Homo sapiens: one gene and its partners. The protein of the gene in region 2 interacts with the protein of the main gene of each other region in a biochemical or structural test. Each region holds a gene or a part of one and is shown on either strand. Other genes may lie near its edges. The genes, in order: ATF7, NFE2L1 and BATF.

Region 1 (3,723 bases), on a different chromosome or scaffold from region 2:
CTAGTAGATACTTCCTTTAAATCACTTCTCTCTAGGATGACATTTTTTCGAAACTGTTAGATGTCCAATTTATGAATTATGTGAATTTTTCTTTCTCACTTATTAATTGAAGTATAACATACAGTGATGTGCATTAAAGTCATAACAACAAAATGACTTTTAGGCTGGGTGCGGTGCTCACGTCTGTAATCGCAGCACTTTGGGAGGCTGAAGCAAGAGAATTGCTTGAGCCTGGGAGGCAGACGTTGCAGTGAGCTGAGATTGCACCACTGCACTCCAGCCTGGGCATCAGAGCAAGACTTTCTCTCAAAAGAAAAAAAAAAAAAGATGACTTGTTACAGATGTAAAATCAGGATACAGACCATTTCCAGCACCCCAGAAAGTTCTATGTCCCTTTCCAATCCACACCATTCCTTCACAGGAGGTAAATGCTATCCTGAGTTCTATCATTGTCAAACAGTTTTGCCTCTTCTTGAATTTTATAAGTATGTACTTTTGTGTATGACTTTTTTGTTGTTGTTGGATATGTTTGTGGGATTCACTCACATTGCTGTGTAATTATTAGTTCACTTTTTTTTTTTTTTTGAGACGGAGTTTTGCTCTGTCGCTCAGGCTGGAGTGCAATGGTGCAATCTTGGCTCACTGAAACCCTGGCCTCCTGGGTTCAAGCAATTCTCCTATCTCAGCCTCCCGAGTAGCTGGGATTATAGGCACACACCACCACATCCAGCTAATTTTTGTATTTTTGGTAGAGATGGGGTTTCACTATGTTGGCCAGGCTGGTCTTGAACTCCTGGCCTCAAGTGATTCCACCACCTCGGCCTCCCAAAGTGCTGGGATTACAGGCATGAGCCACCGTGCCTGACTGATTTTTGGCTATTAAGAATACAATTGCTGGCCGGGCGCGGTGGCTCAATCCTGTAACCCTAGCACTTTGGGAGGCCGAGGCGGGCAGATCGCCTGAGGTCAGGAGATCGAGACCAGCCTGACAAATGTGGTGAAACCCCATCTCTACTAAAAGTACAAAAATTAGCCGGGCGTGGTGGCACGCACCTGTAGTCCCAGCTACTTGGGAGGCTGAGGCAGGAGAATCGCTCAAACCTGGGAGGCAGAGGTTGCAGTGAGCCAAGATCACGCCATTGCACTCCAGCCTGGGTGACAGAGTGAGACTGTCTCAACAACAACAACAACAACAAAAGAATACAATTGCTATGAACATTCTAACATACTTCTTTTGGTAGACATATGCACTAATTTCTCTTCCATATAGACTTATAAGTGAAATTGCTGGGAAGGAGAATAGGTATAATTTATATAAATCTTCTAAATATTCCTTTAAATACAATCGGTCCTCCTATAATACATACTTTTTTTTTTCTTGAGACAGTCTCACTCTGTTGCCCAGGCTGGGGTGCAGTGGAGCAATCACAGCTCACTGCAGCCTCGACCTCTAGGGCTTAAGTGATCCTCCACCTCATACTCTCAAGTAGCTGGAACTACAGGCATGCTCCACCACGCCCAGGTAATTTTTGTATTTTAAGTGGAGATGGGGTTTCTCCATGTTGCCCAGGCTGGTCTTGAATTTCTGGGCTCAAGTGATTCTCCCATCTTGGCCTCCTGAGTAGTTAGGACATACTATTTATATAATTAATGAATCAAAACTTTATCAATTAACATTTGAGATGATCCTTGGTAGAGAATTTACCTTCTCCTTCAGTGGTGGGGAACAGGGACTAGAGGCAGGGCTATCAGGTGGGGATGAGTCTACCTCCACTGGCTCTTCTTCTTTGATTTTGATGTCTGGTGTGGAAGGCAGAGACATGTCAAGGGGCCCAGCAGCAGCCTGTTGTGAAAGAAAAATGAACAGAGTTTAACCCTATGATTCCTTTCAGGTTGAATCTATATTTTCCCATTTCCAAGATAAGGGAATATGCTTCTAAGAAGTTCTGCTCTTATACAATGCACTGAACTGCATGTCAAATAAATGTGGGCCCCTTATGTTTGATTTGTTTTGTATTTTGAGGCGTAGTTTCAATCTTGTTGCCCAGGCTAGAGTGCAATGGTGTGATCTCGTCTCACTGCAACTTCCACCTCCCAAGTTCAAGAGATTCTCCCGCCTCAGCCTCCCAAGTAGCTGGGATTATAGGCATGTGCCACCACGCCCAGCTAATTTTTTATTTTTAATAGAGATGGGGTTTCTCCATGTTGGTCAGGCTGATCTCGAACTCCCGACCTCAGGTGATTCACCTGCCTCAGCCTCCCAAAGTGTTGGGATTACAGGAATGAGCCACTGCATCCGGCCAAGAAATATGGGCCCCTTATGTTTTATGTACAATTCTGGCCAAATCATTTTGTCGGTAATTCTCAGGGCTTCTGTTTCCCCAACTATAAGATGAAGATAATACCTGCTTCACCAATGGTAAACAAATATTTATAAAGACCTGAAAAAAAAGATGCCATTTAAATCCATGCAAATATTATGATAATATTTTTCAGGAAATCAAAATAATTCCTGAATCTGCTGGCCACTGGAGAGCTGTGAACACTTTCTCTGCCAACAAGGATTACCCAATTACCAAAAGCAAACAAAGACAAACTGGCTATTCAAGTACTGCAAACCAGATAGGAAAGGTATTTTCTGGGGAACTCACCATGCTTGATGGTGATCTCACCCCAAAATATGGTGCTGGATGTATCAGGTAGACAAGGGGTTTGGGGTAACAGAAAAGAAAGGCTGATCATCTGATTGGTGAAATAAATGACAACTTGGTCTTAGGAGCAAGACTGGAGAAAACCAGAAAGGAAAGAGAGCACTTTCCTGGCAGTGATGCAATCACCTCACAGAACTGTGGAGCTGTAAACGGCCTTGCAGGGAACAATAAACCATCTGAGATAATGGCCTTGACACTGAACCAGGATAGGAGGGTTGGCATTGCAGTTCAGTTTCATAACAAAGTGGATCCTTTGTTCTATCTATCCTGTATCCCAGGCTTCTTGGTGAAGCAACTGCTTGTTTCAAGATCTTCCCTTGCTACCCTAACCCTTAGAAACCTTCTTGATAGCTAGCTGAGTAAATTAAAGATAATGTGATATCTACTACATTAGAGAAGGTAGTAGTGGTTCATTTTCCCCAATCTGAGGAGGGTGAGCAACAGCAAAAGTAGCTTCATTTCTGCCTCATTTTTTCTACATAGCTAAGATGTCAGGTCCAATTTAGCTAATTCTGAGATCTCTTAAGTCAGAGACTAGTGGGAAGGAGAAGCCTCTAAGTAAATACAACCATAGATTTGAAATCCTCTAGGGCATCTCCTAGCAAAGCTGCGGTTCAGCAAAGTTCCACACTCATTAAACACTTCTGGAGACTCTTCCACTGAGCCTGTACTTCTCATTAAGGGGAAGTAAAGACCACTCCTGTACAGGCAGGAGGATACACCAAGGAATGCCCAGTGAGGAAAGGGCTGACTATAAACTAGTCTCCCAGAAGTGTCAACTGAGCTAAAATGGCAATGAAAAAGACTTGAAGCTTTTTATGGGAAGCTAATTTTCTTGAATTTGCCTATAATAAATTGGGTATAAAATCCCTCATAGGCCAAGTGTGGTGGCTCATGCCTGTAATCTCAACACTTTGGGAGGCCAAGGTGGGAGGATCACCTGAGGCCCGAAATTCTAGACCAGCCTGTGCAAATAGCAAAACCCTTTCTTGGACAGGTGTGGTGGCTCATG
Region 2 (3,500 bases):
CGGCGGCTCCTCAGTCAGGTGAGGGCCCTGGACAGGTTCCAGGTGCCAACCACTGAGGTAAATGCCTGGCTGGTTCACCGAGACCCAGAGGGGTCTGTCTCTGGCAGTCAGCCCAACTCAGGCCTCGCCCTCGAGAGTTCCAGTGGCCTCCAAGATGTGACAGGCCCAGACAACGGGGTGCGAGAAAGCGAAACGGAGCAGGGATTCGGTGAAGATTTGGAGGATTTGGGGGCTGTAGCCCCCCCAGTCAGTGGAGACTTAACCAAAGAGGTTAGTGGACCTGTGGTGGGTGTGTGGGGCCTGGGGCTTGGGGGTGGGCTGGTCCCAAAGGATTGTGGTCAGAACACTGAGCCCTGTAAAGAGCCAGACAGGTTTCAGCAGGGCCTCAGGCACTGTTCTTGGGTAGGGATGGGCTGAACTTTCTGACTTTAGGATTGGGGGCTGGGAGCATTTCCCTGTGTTGAACCATTGACCTACCTCTAAATGTACTGTCAGGGCAGTGGGAGGTTCCTACACATGCCAGGGTGTTTACTGCTTGGATTTCAGCGTGACTGCTGGAGGCCTGGGGTGGGGGAGGAGTCATGTTGTGATGGGCTTTGATGCAGTGTACATCTGTTGCTAAGACACAAATACTTTTTGGACTCTTGTTTTGTACCTCCCCCCACATCAGAACACAGACATACCCTGAAGTTCTCCTTTGTGGCGAGGCCTGTTGTTGTATTGTCCTGATAATTCAGACCTCCTGGGCCTGAGCCAAAGGGTAGATTTGGATAGTTATTCTTGGCCAGGAGAGGGCCAAGGCTTCCAATCTTTGCAAAAGGCCCACTGCAGGGAGTAGGGAAGAGAAGTCTGGGAGCTAGAAAGAGAAACTGCATTCTGCTGCCCAAGTCAACTTGCTTTGAGCTGTCAGAAGAGATCCTTAGCTCTTGTCACATGGCTGACATACTGTTCTGGGCAGAAAGCGATGCAGTTCTTTGCCTTTCAAGATGTGAATGGCTGCTGCTGCCCCTGCCTCACCAACATAAGATTGCTTTGAGCTCTGGGTTTGTATGGCTCTCGCTTGCCATCCAGCCTTAAGTAGCCGGGAAAGAGGCCCACTGCACTCCCCTGGCCATTAGGGAAGGAGAAAGCCCGATTGGGTTTTTGGAGGTGGCATGTGAAGGAATGTAAAAAGTTTTACAGATGTTACAGAAATGGGCTTCTCTGCCTGCCAGGTCAGACCACGTTTTCCCTCCTTCCCTGCTCTGTAGTCTTTTCCTGAGCTTAGTTCTCTGACTGTTAGTGACTGTCAAAGAGTATGGCTTGTTCTAGGCCAGTGGTCCTCAACTGGGGGTGATTTTGTCCCCGAGGGTGCAGGTGGCAATATCGTGAAACAGTTTTGGTTGTCACATCTTGGGGCGGGGTTGCTACTGGCACCTAGTGGGTAGGGGCCAAGGATGCTGGTTAACATCTTGAATGGCACAGAACACCTTCAAACAACAGATTTGTCTGACCCCAAGTGTCAGTAGTGCAGGGATTGAGACACTCGGCTCTGTGCTCAAATGGCTCATACTGGACCTGCTTTGAGAGAGACTAGGATTATCTGAGCGCAGGAGCCAGGAACATTTCTTACCTTTCAGGGCCTGTTAATTTAGCTTCTTACAGGGCCACTTGGAACTTCACCTCTCTTCTGCTTCCCCTTTCCTTCAAGTGGGCTCTAATCTTGGCACAGTGTTCTGAAGTGTGCTTCCCAGTCTCTGCTCTATGCTCCTCCCCCAGGGTAGCTCCCCCAGGGGTGGGTGTAACTGGGTTTGCTCCTGGAAACCCTGCAGGGTAGCTGCATATCTGTTCCTGCTGGGATGGGATGGGATATTTTGGATATTATTGGGTGGGTTGGGGCCGAATGGGATGGGACTTTGACCCTGCTTTCCTCTGTTTCTTGGCCCTCGTGAAGGTTGTGCTTTTCCTCATCTCAGGCCTTTATAACTCCCTTTGGGAGGTGGGGTGGGTCAGCATTAGGGGCCCAGGCTGGGTATGGGGGAAGGGAGGATTATTATGTGTCTAGAACAACATTTCCTCAGCAACTCAGGGATAAAAATACCCAGGTCCAGAGCATGTGACAGGCACTGCTGGAACCGGTATTATCCCTGGGGTGGCAGTACTCCCCCGCTGCCAGGCCTGCTCTATGGACAGCCATAGCCTAGGCTGTTGTCAGGGATAGGATTCCCCTTGAGATTGGCATTCTGCCCAGAGCAGGGGGGTGGCCTGTTTACAGCTCTTTCCAGGCTAGGAGCTGACTGTGACCAGAGAGAACATACTGTCTCTCTGACCTGACCTTAGGCTCCAGGGGAGCAGCAGTGGGGAGGGAGCTAAATTTCCCCTCGAGAAACCAATCCAGGGAGTCTGAATTGTGATACTGAGTCTGTGAGGGGCTTCTTTCCTGCTTGGATGAGATATGGGCCAGGAATCAGGCAGAGAATGCTCTTGAATAAAGCCGGGGTGAAAGGGGAGGGGGGACATTTGTGGCCAGGAGAATGCAGAGCACCTGTCTCCCTAAGTATGGGGCTTCAGGGTTGTGTCTCCCCTCCTCTTGCTTGGGGCTAGGCTTGGCCAGCACTGTGACATTGCTGCACGTGGGCAAAATGGCCTTCCCCTTTTCTCTAGTCTGGCCTATTTTGGGGTGACAAAACTTACGGCTTATGGTGGGCCTGGGTGCCCTGGGTTCCTGCCCAGCCTGGCTCGTGATCCCTGGCCTTGAGAACTGGCCACTGCCTTCCTGAGGAATGGGATAACTCTTTCCACTTCCAGCAAATAATTTAGATTCCCAGAGAATCTGCGGGAGAAGTGTCTGCCCAGTCCTGAGTGGGCTGGATGAGCAAGATGCGACAGGAGGGAGGAGAGTGGCACCCCTTCCCCCAGGGCTCTCACTGCGCCACCCCAGCTGACTGACTGGGCTGGGTGGGGCTGCCCGCCCCTGGGCGCATCTCCTCAAGGAGACGGAGGCGGCCCAGGGATGGGCTGGTTCCTTGCGGCAGCTTCTCCAGCTGCCCTGATGCAGAGATTGGCTCCCGTCTGCAGCTAGGTAACAGGCGGTGGGAGGGGATTGGCTCCTTCCGCATCTCCAGCGGAGACTTGGGGGAGGAGATTGGCTCTCGGCGCAGCCTAGGTAACGACAGTGGGAGGGGATTGGCTCTTTGCGCAGCCCAGCTGCTGACCTGGGGGAGGGGATTGGCTCTCTGCAGCCTCAGCAGTGACCTGCGGGGTGGGAGGGGGTGGGGATTGGCTCCCTGCTGCAGCCTAGGTAACAAGTTTGGGGGGCGTGGGGGGGAGGAGCGGGAGGATAGGCCCAGGAGGGAGCTTGCTTTCCTCTGCAGCTTGAGCACGGAGCATGGGGTGGGAGTCCCATCTCACTGCAGCCTCTGCGGTGAGCTCAGGGTGGGGGCAGCTGGGCGCCTGAGTGGAACTGGGGTTGTGAGGTGGGAGGGGGCTGCTCAAGGATGGAGGAAGGGGGCTGGCTGGGC
Region 3 (3,723 bases), on a different chromosome or scaffold from region 2:
TTGAAGGAAGGAAGCCTTTGTCCTTATGAGCAGGCTGTGCCTTTTTGGTAGGAAGGGAAGCTCTGCCTTCACCTCCCTCCCGCCCATCAGGTACTTCTGCTTACGTATCTTTGGTCAGAATTCTGTCACATGGCTACCCCTAGCTACAAGGTAAGGTAAGCTGGAATTTTTTTTTTTTTTTTTTTTTTTTTTTAGCAATTCTTTTCCCAGTCTTTCTAGAGGAAGGCAAGGCAGAAGGGGTTTGGGATGGACGCTGAATGAACCAAACTATAGTTTTTTTCACATTTGAGGGCAATGAAATCATAGTCTTGAAAACCAAGGACCAGGCGATAGCCTTTTCACCCTGTGACTAGACAGGTCCCTGAGGGCACGGCTGATGTGGCCAATCTTCTGTAAATGCAAAGGTGCTTATGGCCCTAGAGCTTCAGCTCTAAGACATGAAAGTGAAGGTTCCTCCAGAATCACACACGTGCATTATTCAGCGCAAAGATCTGTGGTTTGGTGATTCTTCTTCTCCTTTCATAAGGTGAGAGGCAGCAGTTGGGGTGAATTTCCCCAGGAATGGTGGGAGATGTGGGCCTAGATCCTCCCGCTGCTTGGGAAGAGTCGTACTTTTCAGTTGGAAGCCTGCTCCAGGAATGGCGGGCTCCACCCTCTGCATGTGACGTACAGGGGCTGGTAACTGATGGAGCCTGAACATATATCTGGGTGTGAGGGATAAGCTTCGAACGCCACTTAAGTGTAGGTGGGAGCCAAAAGGTCACCCTGCCAATACATGATTACATGTCCTGTTGAGGAGAAAATACACAGGGACTATTTTCACCCTTCTGGAAATTGTGATTAGAAAATGCAAGGAGAAGGCCAAGACACTAAACTGGAGCTGGTAGGGAGGAAGCCTCAGCCCTGCTCAGGGTGCCTGGACAGTCCCCACCAGGGCCCAGCTAGGAAATGCCAGCCTTGTCCTTGGTCTTCGTCCCTAATGGCTCCCGGCGGGTGAGGGAACTGCCTGGGGATTCCCCATCGTTGAAGCGCTCTGTGAGTGACCCCCTCCTAAGCCCCTCCAGTAGGGGATTTCCCAGAATGTTCCCACGCCCCCAGGAAGCCTCTTCCTTAGCCACCCCCAAGCTGCTTGCGGTTCATGGTAGAGGTAGGTGGCATCAAATGACCCCACAGGTGAGGGATTTGCCTGAGGTGGGAAAAGAGGGAAGATAAAATTGGAAAGCCACCGGGGCTGAGGAATTATCTCATAGGAGAGAACTGTCAAACAGTATAACGTTTAAACAGACTTTAAAGGCAAGAAAGGATGGAGGGCACAGACTCTGAAGCCAGAGTGCCTCAATTCAAGTACCGGTGCTGCAACTTCCAAGCTGCGTGATCTTGAGCCAGTGACTTAACTTCTCTGTTCCTCTGTTTTTCCTCTTCTGTAAAACGGAGATAATATTTTCTACCACACAAGTTTGTTGAAAATATCAAATGTAATGATAACCATAAAATACTTAAAAGAGTGATTGGCACACGGAAGTATTCAATAAATGTTAGTTATTGGCCAGGCATGGATGATTCACGCCTGAAATCCCAGAACTTTGGGAGGCTGAGGCAGGCGGATCACTTGCGGTCAGAAGTTCAAAACCAGCCTGGCCAACATGGTGAAACCCCGTCTCTACTAGAAATACAAAAAGTTAGCCAAGTGTATTGGCGGGCACCTGTAACCCCAGCTACCCAGAAGGCTGAGGTGGGGAGAATTGCTTGAACCAGGGAGGCAGAGGTTGCGGTGAGCTGAGATTGCACCACTGCACTCCCAGTCTGGGCAACAGAGAGAGACTCTGTCTCAAAAATTAAATAAACAAATAAATGATAGTTAAGTTAACCTAGGCTATTTTTTTAAAAAAATTTTGGTTTCTATCCACCTTTTTCGTATAAATTGAGCCAGGTTACACCTTAGACCTATTAGATCAGAATCAGGCATCAGGATTGCTAAAGCTCCCCAGGGGACCCCAGTGTGTGGATGAGGTTGAGAATCATTGTTTTGGTCCAGTCTTTCCATTTTAAAGTGAGGCAACTGGAGCTGAATAGGGAAATCGAGTCACTGAGGATCACCCAGCCAGGACCAGGGCCCAAGTTCCTATTCCCATTTACCGCTGATGGAGCTCACCGTGGTCATGAGTTCAGGACCTGGCTCTGTGTCTGGAGGAAGGTCTGGCCTCGAGTCAGCCCTTGTCCAGAATATCTGGCCAGGTGACCCCCTCTCCATGCAGCCCAGGAGGCAGATGGTCAGCTCTATGATTGGAAGAATGTGAGTGACTCAGGGATCTTGTGTTGTGTTGTGTTGTGTGTGGGTCACCAAAACCGAGACCCAGCTTTCTCCTGGGAGACAACAGGGTAGCCAAGGACTTATTTTTTTGTTTTGTTTTGTTTTGTTTTTTGAGACAGAGTCTTGCTGGGTTGCCCAGGCTGAACTACAATGGTAAAATCTTGGCTCACTGCAACTTCTGCCTCCCAGGTTCAAGTGATTCTCCTGCCTCAGCCTCCGGAGTTGCTGGGACTACAGGCATGCGCCACCACGCCCGGCTAATTTTTGTATTTTTTGTAGAGACAGGGCTTCACCATGCTGGCCAGGCTGGTCTTGAATTCCTGACCTCAAGTGATCTGCCCACCTCAGCCTCCCAAAGTGCTGGGATTACAGGCGTGAGCCACAGCACCTGGCCAACTTTCTAGTGTTCTCGGGAGACCTTTGCCCACTCAAGTCTCCAGTCTCTCGGGGGAAGCAGTCAGTGTGAGAGAAGGAACACAGGGCCCCGAGCCAAGCCCTGCTCTGCGCCTCCCTCGCGGGCAATGAGTCTTTGCATCAAACACTCAAAGTTTCTGAACTTCTGAGAAAACAAGTGCCTTGAGGTGAATCCTATAGCACAGCTGTCACCAGCCTGTGGTCATTTTGGAGGGTATGTGGCATAGGTTTGTCCCAGGGTCTCAGTTGTCCTCATCTGTAGAGTGGGGATAATAACAGCTGACCTTCCCTATCCCACACAGAGCGTTATTGTGAGGAGTCTGATGGACCTGGATGAATTCTGAATAGGAGAAAGATGGGTACATGGATGCCCAAATGCAGGCTCACCCCCACCCCTCTCAGTAGCAGAAGACATGCATATGGGAGAAGCTGCATTTCCTCCCAGCCTCACTGTGCTCTAGGTGTCCAGCCCTCATTGTTAGGGGATGTCACTGTTGTACCTCTGGATAAACAGCTGCTCTCATGCCACCTTTGCCAGTTGTCCCTTCAGCTGGGCGAGCCCTTTCCAGGGCATGACTGCCCCAAGGAGGGCCAGAGGGGACTGGGCAATAGCAGGGACATGGAGGGACGAGGCCCCAGATCAGCCACTTCCTCCTGCAAGGGAAGTCAAACCCTTTCTCTCATAAGTGTCAGGCTGGCTGCACGGTCCCTGGGCTGGCAGGGCAGGTTTCTTGGGGGCCCTAGCAGGAAGCACTCTTGCTTCCCAAGGTAAAGACAAGTTTCTTATCACTGGCGGTGGTTTTCTGGTTAGAGGCAGCAGGCAGCGGTTACAAACTTTGCCTAGAGCTCTGGGATCTGCAAGCCAGGGAGGGGGAGGCAGACGACAGAGCTAGAGTGAGCTCAGCAGAGCTTGCTTAGGGAGGAAGGACCCGCTGTCACTTCCCGAAAGCTGGGCCAGCCTCTAGGCGGGGAGAAGGTCAGAGTGGCCCTCCCTTCTG

Evidence for each region.
Region 1: the proteins of NFE2L1 (region 2) and ATF7 interact in a test that uses a peptide from one of them, tested with the Homo sapiens proteins (one large-scale study listed by IntAct).
Region 3: the proteins of NFE2L1 (region 2) and BATF interact in a test that uses a peptide from one of them, tested with the Homo sapiens proteins (one large-scale study listed by IntAct).

What each region holds. Positions count from the first base shown.
Region 1 is NC_000012.12:53,535,710-53,539,432, forward strand, and holds part of ATF7 (cyclic AMP-dependent transcription factor ATF-7), read right to left. Parts: intron 2,632-3,723; exon of another isoform or gene 2,497-2,631; intron 1,844-2,496; coding exon 1,706-1,843; intron 1-1,705. Other genes in the region: ATF7-NPFF readthrough protein, read right to left, coding at 1,706-1,843. UniProt on the Homo sapiens protein: Stress-responsive chromatin regulator that plays a role in various biological processes including innate immunological memory, adipocyte differentiation or telomerase regulation.
Region 2 is NC_000017.11:48,051,359-48,054,858, forward strand, and holds part of NFE2L1 (endoplasmic reticulum membrane sensor NFE2L1), read left to right. Parts: coding exon 1-270; intron 271-3,500.
Region 3 is NC_000014.9:75,539,259-75,542,981, forward strand, and holds part of BATF (basic leucine zipper transcriptional factor ATF-like), read left to right. Parts: intron 1-3,723. UniProt on the Homo sapiens protein: AP-1 family transcription factor that controls the differentiation of lineage-specific cells in the immune system: specifically mediates the differentiation of T-helper 17 cells (Th17), follicular T-helper cells (TfH), CD8(+) dendritic cells and class-switch recombination (CSR) in B-cells.